2 separate regions of the Homo sapiens genome follow, and region 1 is linked to region 2. Evidence: fine-mapped expression QTL. A gene starts in region 2. The other region holds a variant in brackets. All regions are shown on one strand. Distances are between the middles of the regions.

Region 1 (2,909 bases), 24 kb after region 2:
CACAGACCAGAGAACATCTGAATTGTGGTTTTGGATGCTGGCCTTGACTTTCTTGCTTCCGTCTTTATTGCTTGAGGGGTGAGATTGTTTTAAGAACCTGCTGGTGGCATGAGGTGATTTTTTTTTCTGCTTCCTCTCCTGGGGGCCCTGGCACCAGGGGCTCTGCCAGGACCCAGCAGGGGTTAGTTAATTCTACTCAATTTCCCTGGGTGACTGCCCCTCCCCTCACCCCTTCCTCTCCCCTGCTAAAGGGTTCCGGCTCTGGGGTTCCATACACCAGGTTCAAACCTCAACTCTGCTTCTTCCTTGCTGTGGGAGGAGGTCGATGATAGGAGTATCCTGGTCCAAGCCGCTCCAGTCCTGGTCTCTCTCACAGGTGATTGCTAACTGGGTCCCCAATCCATAAAAGTTAGCTGGGTGTGGTGGCACATGTCTGTAATCCCAGCTGCTCAGGAGGCTTGAGTCAGGAGAATCGCTTGAACCCGGGAGGTGGAGGTTGCAGTGAGCCAAGATTGCACCACTGCACTCCAACCTGGGCGATAGAGTGAGATCCTGTCTCAAAAAAAAAAAAAAAAAACAACTAGAAGTTTCCTGATGGGGTGGTCCCTGTCTACCTCGTACCCTCCACCCTCCCCAGTTAGTCTGCATTCCAGGTCCAGCTCATCACCCAGTTCCTTCAGCCCTTCCTTCCTCCACCCCACTACAGGACTTTTGCACAGGCCATTGGCTCCACATATTAATAAAATGTTGTTCTTTCTTCCTGCATTTGCCTAGTGAACACAAGAGCAAAACTCCATCTCAAAAAAAAAATAAATAAAAAATAAATAAAATAAGGGCATGAATCCCATTCACAAGGATGAAGCCCTCATGATGTGATCATGTCCCAAAAGTCCTACCTATTTACTATCTATTGTCTATCTATCTATCTATCTATCTATCTATCTATCTATCTATCGTTATATCTCCATCTGTCCATCCATCCATCCATCCCTAGACTGCTCAACAGACACGCTACCTCTTAATATTCTCACGTTGGGTATTAGTTTTCATCATATGAATCTTCAGGGGAC[T/G]CTAACATTCAATCCATAACATGGGGGTTACAGTGAGGGCTAAATGGGGGGAGTCCACAAGTCATGCTCACGCCTGTAATCCCAGTGCTTAGGAGGCCGCTGCAGGCTGATCACTTGAGGTCAGGAGTTTGAGGCCAGCCAGGCCAACATGGTAAAACCTCATATCTACTAAAAATACAAAAATTAGCTGGTGTGGTGGTGCTCAACTGTAGTCTCAGCTACTAAGAAGGCCGAGGCAGGAGAATGGCTTGAACCCGGGAGGCGGAGGTTGCTGTGAGCCAAGATGGCACCACTACACTCCAGGCTTGGGTGACACACAGCAAGACTCCATCTCAAAAAAAAAGAAAAGAAAAGAAAAAGAAAAAAAAGAAAAGTTCCGGGCGTATTGGCTCACGCCTGTAATCCCAGCACTTTGGGAGGCCAAGGGGGGCAGGTCACTTGAGATCAAGAGCTCTAGACCAGCCTAACAAACATGGTGAAACCCTGTCTTTACTAGAAATACAAAAATTAGCCGGGCATGGTGGCGGGCGCCTGTAATCCCAGCTACTCGGGAGGCTGAGGCAGGAGAATCACTTGAACCGGGAAGCTGAGATTACAGTGAGCCAAGATCACGCCACTGCACTCCAGCCCGGGCAACACAGCCAGACTCTGTCTCAAAAAAAAACAATAAAAAAAAACCCCAAAAAATCATTAAATATTCACGATTTTGGGGGGGCAGTGGTGAGCCAGTTGTTAAACTGTTGGTATGTTGAAATTGGCCCTAATGGAATATTTACACTATGGGAATTGGCTAACAGTACAAATGCAGGCATTTATTTTATTTTATTTTAAAAAGCTGACATTGGCTGGGTGAGGTGGCTCACACCTGTAATCCCAGCACTTTGGGAGGCTGAGGTGGATGGATCATCTGAGACTGGGAGTTCGAGACCAGCCTGACCAACGTGGAGAAACCCCATCTCTACTAAAAACACAAAATTAGCCAGGTGTGGTGGTACATGCCTGCAATCCCCAGCTACTTGGGAGGCTGAGGCGGGAGAATCGCTTGAACCTGGGAGGCAGAGGTTGCAGTGAGCCGAGATCGCGCCATTACACTACAGTTACTTGAATGACAGTGACTCTGTCTCAGAAAACAAACAAACAAACAAATAGAAAAACACAGAAATCTAGATCTTTATGTAAAAGTTTTGAAACCCTATATGCTCGTGATTCGATTTGCAATTTTCAAAACACTGTGTGGAAGTTTAGCCCAGTGTGGCAAGCACACGCCTGTAGTCCCAGCTACCCAGGAGGCTGAGGTTGGAGGATTGTTTGAGCCTGGGCAGTCAAGGCTGCAGTGAACCAAGATAGTGCCACCGCACTCCAGCCTGAGCAACAGAGCGAGACCCCATCTCAATAAAAATAAAATAAAATAAATAAATAAATAAAGCAAGCAAGCAAGCACTGTGTGAGCTACAATATGAAGGAACCAAAACAAACAAAAATCATAATGCAAACAAACAAACCCAAAGCACGTCTGAGGGTCTGGTTTTGGCTGCCCGTTTGCAAGTTCTGAGCTGGTTCCTCAGTTTACCAAAGAGGAGATGGAGGCCCAGAAGTCTGTAGTGAATTCCCTGCAGCCCCATAGCGGGCCAGTGAAATGTGAGGTTGTTTCCTCATTGCTCTGAGAGTTGGCATTGAGTGAAGATGAGTCCCCAACCCCTCCTCTCTGGGGGATGAAGTGGTAGAAATGGCTGGCAGGGAGGCTGAGGTTGGAGCAACACTGACCTTTGGAATTATGGGCAGGAAATGTGTGGGGCTTTTTTTTTTTTTTAGATGAAGTCTTGCTCTGTCCCCCAGGTT
Region 2 (2,909 bases):
CGGATATGAGTGGGAAGAAGATCAGCGTGCTCTAGGAGCAGAAAGGAGGCATGACTGGAACTCATTAAACACGAGGAGAAGACAGTGGTAGACAGGTGGGCCAGGGCAGATTAGGCCACCGTGGGCAAACTGGTCACAAAGTTCTGAGTCAGCCACTCATCGCTTGTGAAACCTGGGGAAAGTTGTTCATTTATGAATATAAGACGAACAACTTCCATGTAATGAATGCTTGTTATGGGTAAGCCACTGTCTTCGTTTTTATGGCGCGGAGTCTTCAGATCAGCCGGGGAGGTGGAGGATGGGAGGGGGATTCTCTTATCCTTGTTGTACGGAGGAGGAAATACGCTGCGGGCTGGGGTAGGGCTTGTATGAGCCATAATCAGGTCTGGAACTGTCTAGATAAAAACTTCAGCTGATCTCTTAGGATGTCTGTCTGCTCTAAAATCCAAATATGCTTCTTCACAGTTCTGAGATGCAGAAACTGAGGCCTCAGGACGGGGCAGTAGTCTGTCCAATAGGGGCACAGCGAGGACGCGTGGCAGGTAGCGCTGTCCCCCAATTCACCCCAGGGGAAACTGAGGCTAAAGAGAGGGCGGTGTCCTGTCCAGGTTCACACACAGGAAGAGCCAAACCGAGGCCCCCGCGCTGGCCCCCTCCTGAGCCACTGCCCACCCCGGAACAGGAGGGCAGCCTGCTCACGTCCTGATTCCTGGCACCGACATCGGCCCTTAAGTTCTGCCCGGGTGGAGAGGGAGGACAAAAAAAAATGCGATCCGTAGTCAAGGAGACGTAGCCTGCACTCCTGATTGGCGCAGAACTCTAGCCTGGTCTCCTCCTCCTCCTCCTCTTCGCTTGCCAGCTTCTAGAGCTCCGGAGGCCCCACCTCCCAAATGCCCGGCGGTGCCCGGCCTCCCCTGATCTCCACAACAACGCCGCCATGGCTCCTCCTCCTCCTCCCTCTTTTTTTCCCGGCACTTCTGCGCATGTCCAGGGCCCGCGCGCAGACCACTGGGAAGCCTCCTCGTGCATTCTGGGAAATGTAGTCCAAAGCCTGTCGCGCTCAGACAGCCCGCGACATTTGCGCCGTCAAGGCCAAATAGGCTGCAGACGACGCTTTCGCGTATCTTGGGAAATGTAGTTCCAGTGTTGGCGAAGACGCCACGCGGTGACAAACAGGAGTAAGGCGGTCCCCAGGCGAGGGCCAATTGGCAGCCGCCTTTGCCGCGATGCTTCCTGGGAGTTGTAGTTCGGGGTGAGGCCGGGGCTTCATGGGGAGTTGTTGGGCTGAACGAGCGGCTCGGAGTATGGGATTGGGGGAGGGGGACGGGGGAGTTTGGCGCAAAGCCTGCTGGGGCATGGAGTCCCGGCGAGCTTTGTGCGCATGTGCGGGGAGGTGAGGGGGCTTGGGGGGCCTCGCCTGAGAGAGTGAGGTGAGCGAGGGGGGAAGGAGGGAGGGATTGGGTGGGGGCGGTTGGACGAGGGAGGGACCAGAGGTTGGATGGGAAGAGGGGCGCCGGGGGCCTCAGGAGGGAAAGATGGGAGACTTGCGGGGAGGGGAGGAGAAGGGGGCTGAGTGATGGGGAAGGGGCTGGGAGAGGGAACTAGAGGGGGAGGGACTTGGAGAGGGGGAGGGGTGGATAGTGGGAGGGGGTCGTGGATCCTCGAGGTCCTGAACGCGGGAGAGAAATGCTGAGGGAGAGGACGGGGGAGGGGCGCCTGGGGGAGGGGGAGGGGCGGGACGGGGGAGGGACAGGTGGGGGAGGGGAAGGGGACCCTAGCAGAGGGTGGGCTGTGAGATGAAAGCTGAGTGGGAAGCTGGACCCTACAAAGGAGTCTGGGGGCGCCGGGACCGGACCCCTTCGGAAAGGTTTGCGGGAAGGGGCTTCCGGGGACGATGGTTATTGTTGTAACGTAGATACGGCGCAGGTGGCTCGTTTTGCGCGCTGCTTCTACAAGTGCAACTTTTACAGAGTTGTGAGATTCCTGAAGATAAGAATCGTTGCTCTGTTTTGCTGCTTTCTCAGTGCGGAGCATCTGCCTTTTTAGCTTGTTGCAAGGCATTATTACCTTCGGTAATATGTGTAAAGTGCTTAGAAACTCTGTTTATTGTCAAATGAAGTTGACCCCCGCCACCTCTACCCCAGTCAGGATGGAGTCACCCTCCTCTATATCCGATTTTAACGCCTATTCCAATGTATACTTAGTATTTTAATCTGCGTGCGTGTTCATAGCAGTGTCCCCTGGGCACCTCGCAGGGAAACTTCGACAAAGTAACCCTAAGTCTGACTGGACACTTACTAGCCAGGTGTGGTTCTCAGCATTTTTGTTCTCCTTCTATCACTTTACAGTCAACGAAATGGAGATACAGGGTATTACAAAAGGTGCCTTGTACCTCGTCCAAGGACACAGAGCTGGTAGGAGGCAGAGCTGGAATTTGCCCCAGAGCCTTTGTGCCGTAGGTAAATATTTGTCCAGTGGGCCAGCGGCTCTCAACCAGGAGTGGTTTTGTCCCCCAGGGGACATGTGGCAATGTCTGGAGACTTTTTTTTTGGTTTTTCCAACTTGGGAAGTGCTACTGGCATCTCATGAAAAGAGGCAGAGATGCTGGTAGACATCGTATGTTGCACAGGATAGCCCGCCACGACACAAGTGCCATTAATGTCGAGGTTGGGAACCTAGAGTAGACAAACCGGTCTTTGTCGAGCACTTAGCCTTTGGAGGCTGCTTCTAACTCCTGCTCCCAGCAGCCTCTTGAGAGGAAGGAGCTCTTGTTAGTCCTGTGTCTCAGGTGGAGAAATGAAGCACAGAGGGGGTAAGTCACACGTCCACAGTCACACTGCTGATGAGTGGCAGAGCTGGAAGTTGAAGCCAGGCAGCCAGACTCCACAGCCTCTTAGCCATGATATTAA

Evidence for each region. PIP is the estimated chance that this variant, and not a neighbour inherited with it, causes the effect. A credible set is the group of variants that fine-mapping cannot tell apart.
Region 1: its variant is the best candidate, but not a certain one, in a credible set for the expression of ZNF444 in fibroblasts (GTEx, PIP 0.53).

The regions. Positions count from the first base shown.
Region 1 is chr19:56,164,081-56,166,989 of GRCh38, forward strand. No RefSeq gene overlaps it. Among named protein-coding and RNA genes, the nearest start is that of GALP, 10 kb to the right of the region's middle. The variant T/G (reference allele first, on the strand shown) is at 1,071.
Region 2 is chr19:56,139,928-56,142,836 of GRCh38, forward strand. It overlaps ZNF444 (zinc finger protein 444), which reads left to right and starts at 1,360. Exons shown (of 5, transcript NM_018337.4): 1 at 1,360-1,430. RefSeq lists enhancers at 823-1,152, 1,183-1,322.